Linked DNA regions of Homo sapiens: all the other regions are reported to be linked to region 4. The links are microRNA targets in miRTarBase. Many come from high-throughput screens and were not tested one by one. Region 4 holds a microRNA gene; each other region holds the end of a gene's coding sequence.
The links. The annotated mature microRNA hsa-miR-4269 reads GCAGGCACAGACAGCCCUGGC and lies in region 4 at 1,316-1,336, opposite strand. An mRNA with a match to its seed (bases 2 to 7 or 8) in the 3' UTR can be bound and repressed. Matches are read on the target gene's strand: a 7mer-m8 pairs with bases 2 to 8, a 7mer-A1 pairs with bases 2 to 7 and ends in A, and an 8mer does both.

Region 1 (3,117 bases), not on the chromosome of region 4:
CTGTCACCCAGGCTGGAGTGCAGTGGCACGATTTCAGCTGACTCCCCAGCTCAAGGGATCCTCCTGCCTCAGCCTCCTGAGCAGCTGGGACCATAGGCCCAGGCCACCATGCTCGGCTAATTTTTTTTTTTTTTTTGTATTTTTGGTAGAAGTGGGGTTTCGCCATGCTGCCCAGGCTGGTCTCGAACTCCTGGCCTCAAGTGATCCGCCCACCTCAGACTCTGGAAGTGCTGGGATTACAGGCGTTAGCCACCTTGCCCAGCCCCTGTTATGTCTATTTTAACACACATACATCCATCATCCCCCGCCAAGAACTGACCTAAACCAATAAGTTATTCCTGAGGTGCTAAATTGCCACCATGGCCCTTTAGGAATTTTTTTTTTAAATTGAGATGGAGTCTCGCTCTGTTGCCCAGGCTGGAGTGTAGTGGCATGATCTCAGCTCACTGCAACCTCTGCCTCCTGGGTTCAAGCGATTCTCATGCCTCAGCCATCTGAGTGGTTGGGATTACAGGCGACCACCACCATGCTCAGCTAATTTTTGTATTTTTAGTAGAGATGGGCCATGTTGTCCAGGCTGGTCTCAAGACTCCTGGCCTCAAGTGATCTGCCCGCCTTGGCCTCCCAAAGAACTGGGATTACAAGTGTGAGCCATCGCGCCTGGCCTAGAAATTTTTTTAAAGGAAAGATGCTGGGACATCTCATGGAACTGAAAGACCAGCTGAAGCTCCCAGCCTGGAGCTGGGGCAGGAAGTGAGGCAGTTCCAGGGACCTCAGGACAGAAGTTCATAGACCTCTTTCCTTGGGACACTGCCAGAAACTCACTTCTGCTCTAGCAGCAACCAGACTGAGTTTCTCAGGTCCAAATTTCAAATCTCTCTGAGAGTCTGATTGGCCAGCTAGATGAGATGGCCATCCTGGGAAGATGAGCTTGGGCTGGGGAGGCAGCTCGTTTTTTTTTTTTTTTTTTTTTTGAGACAAGAGTCTCTCTCTGTCGCCCAGGCTGGAGTGCAGTGGCACGAACTCGGCTCACTGCAAGCTCCGCCTCCTGGGTTCATGCCATTCTCCTGCCTCAGCCTCCCGAGTAGCTGGGACTACAGGCGCCCGCCACCACGCCCGGCTAATTTTTTTGTATTTTTAGTAGAGACAGGGTTTCACCGTGTTAGCCAGGATGGGCTCGATCTCCTGAGCTCGTGATCTGCCCCCCTCGGCCTCCCAAAGTGCTGGGATTACAGGCGTGAGCCACCGCGCCGGCCAAGGGAGGAGGCTCGGGTTTTAACAACATGGCCACTGGGGGGCAGTTATGAGTCAGTTTACCAGAATCCAATTCATTGGCCCGTTTTCAGCTTGACACTTCACTGCATTTATTTGTTTCTCTTAACCATCCGGTCTTAATTACCTGTCTTAACCATCCGGTCTTAATTACCTGGCTTTTGTTTTGTCTTCACAACAGCGTTTTGGGAGAATGTTGAATCCAAGCGAGCTGAGTCAGCTGTCTGCTGTTAAGCTGGAGACAGAGGGGAAGATTGAATATAAATGGCCCCCAACCTTGACAAAAGTCTCAAGAAATGTGGAGAAGCCCCTGAAAAAAACTGAGATTAAGCTTCTTTCACCCTAGCAGAAAAAAAAGCAGGAGGTTAGGAATCAAGCTGTCAAATAAGGGAGTTTTATTTATTGCATGTTTGGGTTTTGGACTAAGAGTTTACCCCTAGCCGTGTCTCATACCCTTTCTTTCCCTGTCCTGCAAAGCTTAACATGGGAGGTAGAGATTTGTGTCTCTTCTTCTTCTTCTTCTCTCTCTCTCTCTTTTTTTTTTTTTTCCAATCAGGCACTCTCTGTACCCCTGCCACCCTGAGGAAGACAAAATATGAGAGGATCTAGCAAAGTCTCTGCAAAAATGATTAATGTGAATATTCCCATCCGGACTTCCTATGAAAAAGTTGCATTATAAAATGAAAGAATAATTGAAGAAAATATAGATCCAGAAAAATCCATAAAGATGGACAGGAAAAATCAAGAGTTCTATGGGGCTCTTAATGGGTCAAGACCCAGAGGGCAAAGATCATCTGGAAGGCTGGAAACTGGCTAAGTATTTAGAATGGCTTGTGTACTGGTGTGAAGTGAGGAATTGAAAGAGAGCAGGAGAAGGATGTGAAATATATTTTTCTGTGTATTAAGAGTGCACTGGCCGGATGTGGTGGCTCACGCCTGTAATCCCAGCACTTTTGGAAGGCTGAGGCAGGTGGATTGCTTGGGCACACGAGTTTGAGACCAGCCTGGGCAACATGGTAGAATCCCGTCTCTACCAAAAATACAAAAATTAGCCAGGTGTGGTGGCGCAAGCCTGTAGTCCCAGCTACTCGGGAGGCTGGGGTGGGAGGATCACTTGAGCCTGGGAGGTGGAGGTTACAGTGAGCCAAGATCAAGTGAGCCAAGATCACACCACTGCACTCCAGCCTGGGTGACAGAGTAAGACCCTATCTCAAAAAAATAAAAATATAAATATAAAAATAAAAGAGCGTACCTCTGCCCACGTCCCTTAACTTTGGTATTTCCTCCTAAGATTGAGAAAATATTCGAAATACTTCTCCTTTATTTTGATCATTGTTCTGCTTCTCTCAATGTGACTGGCTAGTTTCAGCCTAATAAGGCTTCCCCTGTTTTCATAGGTTTACCCCTCTCTTCTGTAAACAAGGGCTTCCACTAAAGCCTGGTCATCACTGGGAGTTGAGGAGCTGGGGTTGACCATTCTTTGCTGTAATAATTTTAACCGTGGACAAGTTCCTGGTAGGCAGCAAAGGTAGGTTGGGATCCTTGATGTACTCTTGGACCCAGTCGTCATTGGGGTTGGTGCAGACTTCTCGGTTCCTCTTGGTGACGAAGCTGCAGAGGCAGAATTAGACCGTCATGGGCTGCAGACTCGGGCAGGAGTCCGGTGCCCACCCCCACCTCTGGTTCACATGGAGCTCACCTTATGTTCTTTAAAGCTTCCCTGGGCCTGTCCTGGCTGGGTTCCCTCAGACAGCCTCTCTCTCTGGCCTCAGAACCTTACCATCCCTTCTCTCAGTCCCTTCTCCACTCAGCCTAGACCCTCAAGCTTGGGTTTCATAATGAACC
Region 2 (3,126 bases), not on the chromosome of region 4:
ACAAAGGAAACGCTCAATACACTTCTGTTGAAGGTGTGATTGAGTGAGAGGAGGAATGAATCCTCAGGTGTGGTCTGCCAGGGGCAGCGGGGGCATGGCTTTCCCAGGAGGTAGTAGGTTCCATATTGGATTGAAAAGGTGGGGGCTGGGCATGGAGGCTCACGCCTGTAATCCCAGCACTTTGGGAGGCCGAGGTGGGCGGATCACGAGGTCAGGAGATCGAGACCATCCTGGCTAACACGGTGAAACCCCGTCTCTACTAAAAATACAAACAATTAGCCGAGCGTGGTGGCGGGCGCCTGTAGTCCCAGCTACTCGGGAGGCTGAGGCAGGAGCATGGCGTGAACCCGGGAGGCGGAGCTTGCAGTGAGCCGAGATCGCGCCACCGCACTCCAGCCTGGGCGACAAAGTGAGACTCCGTCTAAAAAAAAAAAAAAAGAAAAGGTGGGAAAAGGCTGACGTCCATGTTTGTGAATATAAGCTGATCTCTTACATTCTTTCCTCTATCTTTTTTCCTCCTTAGGTGCAGAAGATACACAAAATGGCACCAACTTCACTAGTGACTCTCATTTCTCTGGAGCCAGAACGTGGTGAACACAGTCAAATTCAGTGTACTTGATAATATCAACTGGACCCCAAATCTGTCTCACGGTCTTCCTGGGAGTCTATCCTTCTGCTGAAACTGCAAGCTAAGCCTTCTGAAGATGGTAAAGGACTTGGCCAGATGTGGTGGGTCACACTTGTAATCCCACTACTTTGGGAGGCCAAGGCAGGAAGATTGCTTGAGCTCAGGAGTTTGAAACCAGCCTGGACAACATATAGCAAGACTCTGCCTCTATTATAAAAAAACAAAATAAATGAAAAGGACTGTAGGAGGCAGAGACGGGTACAGGGGGTACCACACTACCCTGTTGACACAGCCTAGATCCAGAGTTCAGAAGACCTTGAGACAATGAAAATAAACTTGGTAATAATCTTTTTTCAATCATCACAGTAATTATTGATTTGTACAAAAATCACTTGACGTCATAACCTTAAAGTGACACTGCTCTGCCTATGGAGTAGCCGTTCTTTTATTCCTTTACTTTCTTAACAAATTTGCTTTCACTTAAAAAAAAACCTTTAAGTTCAAGGAAGAACAAGATATATACTTCATCTCAAAAGAATCTACTCACACACACTTATTAATTACAAAAGGAAAATCAGTAATTTTGCAGCAGAGAAATATGGCCAACTCCACCTTAACCAAGTGGCTGAAAGTCACTGCACCAGTAATGGCACAAACCAATGTGAGATGCTTCCTGATATGATACAGTAAGAAGGCCACAGTCTCTTCTGCGTGTTAGTGACAAAAAGTGGGTAAGCTGAAACTAATAATTAGGCAATGTCAAGTGAACACAAATTCAGGATGACAGACTGCAAAGTAACATCCATGTATTCTTCAACAATGGATTGATCAGGGCTACTCAGAAGGCTGAGGCGGAAGGATTGCTTGAGGCCAGGAGTTCCAGATCAACCTGGGCAACATGATGAGACCCCATCTCTACAAACAATTTTTTAAAAATGAGCCAGGTGTGGTAGTGTGCATCTGTAGTCTCAGCAACTTAGGAGCCTGAGGCAGGAGAATGGTTTGAACACAGGGATGGTGAGGCTGCAGTGAGCTATGATCGTGCTACTGCACTCCAGCCTGGGCGACACAGCAAGTTCTTGTTTCCAAACAACAACAAAACAAAACAAAAAAAAAACCGGATAGAATAATGACCAAAAAATGGAGAAAAAGTAGGCTGACTCAGGAAACACTTAGAAAGTACAGCCATACCTCAAAGATATTGTGGATTGGGTTGCAGCCCACCACAATAAAGCAAATATTGCTATAAAGTGAGTCACAAAAATGGTTTTGTTTCCTTGTGAATATAAAGTTACATTGGCTGGGTGTGGTGGCTCATGCCTATAATCCCAGTACTTTAGGACATGGAAGGGGGAGGATCACTTGAGACCAGGAGTTGTGAGGTCAACCTGGGCAATATAGGGAGATCCTGTCTCTATTTAAAAAAAGAAGTTATGGCCGGGCGCGGTGGCTCATGCCTGTAATACCAGCACTTTGGGAGGCGGAGGCGGGCAGATCGCGAGGTCAGGAGATCGAGACCATCCTGGCTAACGTGGAGAAACCCCGTCTCTACTAAAAAAAAAAATTACAAAAAATTAGCCGGGCATGGTAGCAGGTGCCTGTAGTCCCAGCTACTCGGGAGGCTGAGGCAGGAGAATGGCGTGAACCTGGGAGGCGGAGCTTGCAGTGAGCCAAGATCGCGCCACTGCACTCCAGCCTGGGTGGCCGAGCGAGACTCCCTCTCAAAAAAAAAAGTTACATTTACACTACACTACACTGTAGTCTAATAAAGTGTAAAATGGTGTTATGTCTAGGAAACAAGGCACATACTTTAATTTTAAAACACTTGATGCTGGCTGGGTGGGGTGACTCACGCCTGTAATCCCAGCACTTTGGGAGGCCGAGGCAGGTGGATTGCTTGAGCTCAGCCTGGACAACATGGCAAAACCCCATCTATTAAAAGAAAAAATACCTGATGCCCTTATTTGAAGCTCCATTATTTTTTAAAAAGAAATTATATAAAAATACTTTATTGCTAAAAATACTAATAATGATCTTAGCCTTCAGGGAGTCGTAATCTTTTTTGCTGGTGAGGAGTCTTGCCTCAATGTCATTGGCTGCTGGCTGATAAGGGTGGTGGTTGCTAAATATTGAAGTGGTTGTAACAATTTGTTAAAACAACAATGAAATTTACCACATTAACTGACGCTTCCTTCCACGAAAGATTTCTCTGGAACATGAGATGTTGTTTGATAGCATTTTACCCATAATAGAACTTCTTTCAAAATTGGAGCCAATCCTCTCAAACCCTGCCACTGCTTTCTTAACTACGTGCGTCAATATTGTAAATCCTCTGTTGTAGTTTAAACAGCGTTCACAGCATCTTCACCAGGAGTAAATTCCACCTCATGAAACCACTTTCGAGGCTCCTTCTGGACTGTGGCGTTCTTTCCAGGCTACCTTGTGGCAATTTGAGAGTCTGGCATCGTTTTCCGCCAGGACCCAAAGATCCAGGAGGC
Region 3 (3,111 bases), not on the chromosome of region 4:
AAATGAAGCAATGGAGTGGATGAATAACAAGCTAAATCTGCAGAACAAGCAGAGTTTGACCATGGATCCAGTTGTCAAGTCAAAAGAGATTGAAGCTAAAATTAAGGTAATTTAAGACTTTTTTTTAATAGTCTTTTCTTGACAGCCTTATTATTAATAGTCCTCAAGTGACACTTAGGAGGGAACTTTATTATAGTGTTTTAGCTTCTAGGTTGAGGATTGGGTGGTGGGAGAGGGCGGATTTGGGTTTAGCATGGCTTGTAAAATTTGTTAATTTTATAAGAAACCAGTTTTCTGTCTTACCCATTCCAGGAGCTGACAAGTACTTGTAGCCCTATAATTTCAAAGCCCAAACCCAAAGTGGAACCTCCAAAAGAGGAACAAAAAAATGCAGAGCAGAATGGACCAGTGGATGGACAAGGAGACAACCCAGGCCCCCAGGCTGCTGAGCAGGGTACAGACACAGCTGTGCCTTCGGATTCAGACAAGAAGCTTCCTGAAATGGACATTGATTGATTCCAACACTTGTTTCTATTAAAACAGACTATTATAAAGCTTTAAGTTGTCAACTTTGTTCTAAATATCAACTAGCGCAAGTGAATACTGAAGATTTCTTAGTCAGTTTTTAGGGGATTTTCGGGGAGGGGAAATAGGTAATGTATGGAGCATTTTCACTTCTAAATAGTTAGATACAGAAATTAAGTGCATTGTATCTTTTTCATAATGGTACTATTTAGAAGCCCAGTTAGTCTTACTGAGCTTATGCTTCACTCCTTTATGTTTAACCATGTGTCTACAAGAATAAGTTTGTTTTGGAAAGTTGAGCTATAGCTACAGCTCTAGCTATCCAGCAGACTTTTCATTATGACTTACATGGCAGGAGCTCTAATTATGCTTTAAAAATCTGTTGTGGAGATTGCTTTAAATGCTCCCTGCCTGGTGTGGGGATGGGGTCCCCCTCTTTGTGAGGGCTGGAGCATGGCACGGCATGGATTAACACGGCAGAGGAACAAAGGTGTGCTCTGAGCTTCTTCATATTTCACCTTCACCCTCACCTGTGTTCTCTTCCCTCTCTCCCAATAAAAGGGCTCCCATTATAAATGCCATGTACTTCTCTTGGGAAAATAGACCCCCTTGCCTAGAGTAAGTTGTTAACTGAGGGCTTTAAACCTGGAGGCTCTTCCTGAAAGTATGTTCATGAATACCCCAAGCATCAAGGTCTAAATAATTTTCAGAAGATTAGAATTGGGTAGATATACTGTTGGATATAGCCATGGTAAATTTAACTGAGGAATTAAATCCTTGTTAATTTTGGTGTAAAGATTTGTATCCTGGCCTGTTTATTCAGGTGGGAGATGTTCTGTATAATTTTGAGGTATAGCTTGAACTCCTAGAACAAGAGTTAAAAGTTCTTTTTAGCTCATTCACAATCACTTGTGTGTTAAGTGTTAATATCTGTCATGAACCTGCCAATTTGTACGTGTTAAGCAGCTGACAGATGATGCAAAAAAAACTAAGATACACTGGATTGTACTGGATGAGTCTGAAATTAGTGTTAAAGAAGTGTGGTGCCTGATGTTATAACAACACCTCATTCTTAACTGTGTGGCCAATGTCAGGTATACCAAAGCATTCCTCTGACTGCTTTTTGGGGCAGTGTTGACAGGAGTGAGGCATTTTGGAAACTCCAAGGGAAGCCTGTGTTTGAGGCCAGAGTTGGTACCTGCTTTAAGAAACTGTTACAGGGCTTGTTGGTAATGTTTTGAATCTTTGTAAAAATTGATATTCTGTATAACAGAGTGCCTCTCTGTTACTTTTGGCCTATGTTGTTAGAAATAAGATGCTATCTTGCATAGTTAGAATTAAGCGTTTGTCCATCTCTAGATAACATTGAAAAGTTTGAGTGTTACAGGCTCTAAAGTGCAATGGAGAACAATTGCTTAGGAGGAGGAAGGGGAAAGTATACTTATGTTGGTGTGTAAGCATGCATGGAGGCCTCGAGGCACCACAACAAGGCCAGGTTCTTAGCACATCCTCTGTTCTCTACCTGTCATGCTTCAAGAGTTCCAGCTGGCCTGCTGTGAAGCCAGTAGCTATTTTAAAAGTGCTGGCTGCAGGATTAAGCCAACCCTTTACAACTGGCCCAGACCGTAATGGCCATTTCTTCTTAAAAAAAAAAAAATTTTTTTTTTTTTTTTTTTTTTTTTTTTTTTTTTTTTTGGTGTGTGTGTGTGTGTGTGTGGGGAAGGGTGTGGGTGCTGGGATGGGGGTGAATTTCAAGTTGAAACACGATGATGTGGTCTGCTTGCTCTCTGCTTAGACAGGCTTTAAGACCAATTGGATTTTCATGGAGGCCAGGACAGAGAGTGGTAATTGATGGCTTGTGTACAGACAAGCATTTATCCAGGTTGCGTTATCCAAACTGATTTGTTAAAGCTCCAGGTCACGTTCTTACACTAAGAAAATCATTCAGTAAACATGAGACAAGTTTAGGAAAAACTAATAAAATAAACCTGTCTTAAACTTGAATGGTTTCCTTAATTCCATAATGAAGGCTGCTGGGTGTGTGTGTGGGGGTGTGTGTGTATGTGTGTGTGTCTGTGTGTATGTGTGTGTGGGGTGGGGGCGGGGGGTGTGTTTTCAATAAAAATGTTCTCTAGGAGTAGGAACCCTCTGAGCTAAATTTCACTTAACATCCGTTGAAGACTTCCAGTCTGAAGAGTGACAGCTGAAGCACACTGCCTACTTTGTGAGAAAATGTTGCCTAATTTTTCTGTACTCAAACTCTCCAGTTGAGTCTTGGCCCAGTTCCTTTGGTGTTAGGAATCCTTGTCTTGCTCCTGTGACTGGGCCTTACTTTGAGGGTTTTGTTAGCAGAAGGCGGGGGTTATGGCATAAAGGTAAGTGCTAGGACTTACACCTGGCCAAAGAACAGCGCGGTCCAGAGTGTGCTAGAATAGTTGGCGCCACTGGATGTGTGGTGTGGCTGCGTGGAATGTGTGTTGGTGTATGTATGTGGTGGTGATGGGTGTTTAAAGGGCACTAAGCCAGTGAAAAAGACCTTAACTGGATAAGGCATGGGTCTAGACGAGGAGGGGTCAGGGGTCTTGT
Region 4 (3,126 bases):
GCCAGGGTCTCCCGGTTGTTGGCTGGGGTGGGGTCCTGCCTTCGCCCCTTAGCATTCACCCCCTACCCCTTTTCACCATGTAAAACCCTGTGGGCCCTGGGCCCTGGATGCTCTGCGCCCGAGGACCTGGGTTCTGCCATCACCTGGGCAGTGTGGGGGGCATATAGGGGGAACATGGGGTGCCTGATGTAGTGCCTGTGTTTGACCTTGTTTAGGTGAAGAGCACCCTTTCCAGCTTATGTTTTGTATCATGACCGGGAAAGGTACGAAACAAGTGTGTCGGGGCCCAGATGATTTGATGGCTCTACGGGCCGAGTATGGGACACAGGATAGCTTGGCCCTGGGTCAGGTATTAGTCAGTCCTTGCTGGCACCTGGGCAGGGACACATCCGTGGATGGGGCCTGGCCAGGTGGCCTCTGAGGTCCTCGTGTCCACTGGAAGGCTGTGTCCTCTGTTGTAGTCACTGACTTGCTGGACCTGGGTGGGAGCTCACCCACCTGTGGATGGGCCAGGGAGCTCCTGGAATCACTAGAAAGATGAACTTTTTTTGCCTTCTAAATGTATGAAAAGATGGGAAATGATAGGAAAATAAGTGGAAGTCAGATCTATTCAGGAAAATGACTTCCCAGGGAAGAGCTGGGGTGCCTCCAAACCCAGAATCCTCGGTTTCTAGAAGCAAGGCTGACCGAGGTGGGCAGCATTCTTTGGGACCTTGAGTGATGAAGTAGTTACTTAAGCAGAGTGTTTCTCATGTGAAGCCAGGCAGTCTAGGACACTAGGAATCATTTCAGCGTGGGGGAGACGCAGACACTGTGCTTGCCCAGGGTGCTGCATTCATCTGAAATGCCGGTGGCTACCAGCTCTTTGTCACGGTTCCTCCGTGGTCTCCTTGAATGCTGTCAGATTCAGGGCCCGTGTGGGCAGCGGCAGCCTCGTTCCCAGTCGTGTTTAGGGAATGGGGTCAGAGAAGTACTTGCTAAAGCTTCCTGTGTGCACGTGTAATTGTGTGTGCATGTGTGTTAAATAAATGTATTTCAACTCGAAATACACGTTTCGTGGCCATCAGTCTAGGGATGGCTAGAATTTAGTCACTAAATGAAACTAAGCCGCACCGTCACCAATAATGTGAACATGATTAAAAACCACACTCAGTTCTTATTCATTTACCTACAAGTCCAGAAACTTTTAGAACTTATTTCACCATTAAAATAAATAGTTTTTTAAAAAATATACAACAATAAGGAAAAATTTGAAAGCCTCTTGCCCCTCCATCCCAGGCCTGACAGAGTGGCTTCCACAAAGAAAGAGGCAGAAGCCAGGGCTGTCTGTGCCTGCAGGGCGCTGTTGGGCTCACAGATGACCCAGACTCCCCCGTAATGGAGCCGCGGACCCACAGCGAGCCACTTGCACCAGGCTTAGCCAAGCTGACAGGCCAGCGGAGTAAGGAATGTTCCCTACCATTGTCCAGAAAATGTAACGAGGGTGAAGGTGTGCCAAGCAGACTCCCCGTGTCAGCCCTGAGGCGACTGCCATCGCTTTCAGAAACCTGACTACCAACCTGGATGAAAACCGACTGCTTGGTCATGGCCATGCAGTTAGAAAACACAGCAGCAATCCTCAGATGAGTGTGGCCGTATTTGTGTTACTCAAGCTGCTTTGTCATCTGCATTTGAAGAAACGTGGTGAGCCTCCTGTGTGTGCCCATGTGGCAGTGGGCACCTCTGCCCCCTGCAAAGGCTGTCTAAGAACACAGAGCCTGCAGTACAGGCCCTGCCTCCTGACATGCCCCAGGCCGGCTGGAAGAAAGCGCGGGACTGTCCTATTGACGTGGGGAGGGGACGGCTGGACTCTGTGATGCTAACTGTGTTCTCTGCTGGGCCATGTGGCTCCCCACAGAGACCCTGGGTGCCCAGTCATTCGCGTTCTCCTATGTGTGTGTATATATATTATATATACATGTATTTACTAACTTTAGAAAGCCCCCAAGGGGGCCTTGTTTCTGCTTGGACAGTCAGCGTCCATAGCGTGTCATTCCTAAGCTCCATTAAGGAGATTCAGAAGCAAGCAGTTACCCCTGGAGTCTGCACGCTGGGCACAAGGGTCACACCTTCGTTGAGAGCTCCTGACCCCAGGAGCCGAGGGCAGGACACGGTAGTGTTTACAGGACCTGGCAAAGGGGCACTGCCTTGTGTGTGAGGTTTTTTCACCAGTCAGTCCCTTTTAAAAACAGCATATCTTTTGAAGAACAAGAAGTTTACGCAGGCATAAGCAACTCACTTTGCACGTGGAGCTTTCAGGACGTTTCATGTCTGTTACGTTATAGCCTCTATCCTCATGGGGGCTCTGAGTTCAGCAGGGCCTGAGCTGTTAATCTGCTTTTTCAAATTATTAATAATGAAAGTAACACCATGCCACCACCTGGTATCATTTCATGCTTTCTATGTGCCTGGTGTTTACACGGCTTATCTCATTTAATCTTCCCAGCATGTAATAAAAATATTGCAACAGGTACTGCTCCTGTGTGGACTCCTTCCCCCGAGCTCACACTGCTTGAGGCCTTCCCAGCTCTGGGCTTTGTGTCCTGTGTGGACTTCTTCCCCGAGCTCACACTGCTTGAGGCATTCTAGCTCTGGGCTTTGTGAATATCCTGCTTTTATCCTCATTTATAGGTAAGAAAGCTGACTCAGAGAGGTTAAGCAGCTGGTCTGAGGTCAACTGCTTACGGGTCGGGGAGCTGGGCCTGCACACAGGGGTCTGATGCAGAGCTGGTCCTATCTGCTTTATAAGCTGTGGCTCACAGGGCACTCCAGGGGCTCGAGAGGACCTGGCGGGCTGAGATGAAGACTGGTGAGGCCTGGGAGGCAGGTGCTTGACTGAGGTGGGAAGTGGGACCTTGGTGCCAAGCATTCCCAGGGCCACGGGGCAGGCCTGTAGGGTCTGGTGGGTATCTGGGGTCCCGGAGAAGCCCTTGGCACGGGGCTTCATGAGAGCATAGGCGAGTGCCGCGCCCTGCAGTTGAGCACGGGGGATGCAGCTGTCGCAGTCGCTTTTGAAGAGTGAGGGGTGAGGCCTGCAGTTGCTGCCCGACGTTGTTTACAAGTGAGCAAGTTTTACAAAAAACATGG

Region 1: the mRNA of CCL16 is a reported target of hsa-miR-4269. Seed matches in the 3' UTR shown: 8mer at 1,825-1,832.
Region 2: miRTarBase lists DUXA as a target of hsa-miR-4269. The part of its 3' UTR that is shown has no 7-base or 8-base seed match.
Region 3: miRTarBase lists HSPA4 as a target of hsa-miR-4269. Seed matches in the 3' UTR shown: 8mer at 1,569-1,576.

What each region holds. Positions count from the first base shown.
Region 1 is chr17:35,974,849-35,977,965 of GRCh38, forward strand. CCL16 (C-C motif chemokine ligand 16) reads right to left here. Exons shown (of 3, transcript NM_004590.4): 3 at 1,651-2,883. The coding sequence ends at 2,718. Among named protein-coding and RNA genes, the nearest start is that of CCL16, 5.1 kb to the right of the region's middle.
Region 2 is chr19:57,151,880-57,155,005 of GRCh38, reverse strand. DUXA (double homeobox A) reads left to right here. Exons shown (of 6, transcript NM_001012729.2): 6 at 524-985. The coding sequence ends at 594. Among named protein-coding and RNA genes, the nearest start is that of ZIM3, 8.2 kb to the right of the region's middle.
Region 3 is chr5:133,103,921-133,107,031 of GRCh38, forward strand. It overlaps HSPA4 (heat shock protein family A (Hsp70) member 4), which reads left to right. Exons shown (of 19, transcript NM_002154.4): 18 at 1-106; 19 at 313-2,529. The coding sequence ends at 516. Among named protein-coding and RNA genes, the nearest start is that of HSPA4, 53 kb to the left of the region's middle.
Region 4 is chr2:239,303,682-239,306,807 of GRCh38, reverse strand. MIR4269 (microRNA 4269) reads right to left here and starts at 1,346; the gene lies at 1,263-1,346. The region is part of intron 2 of HDAC4 (histone deacetylase 4); the gene reads left to right.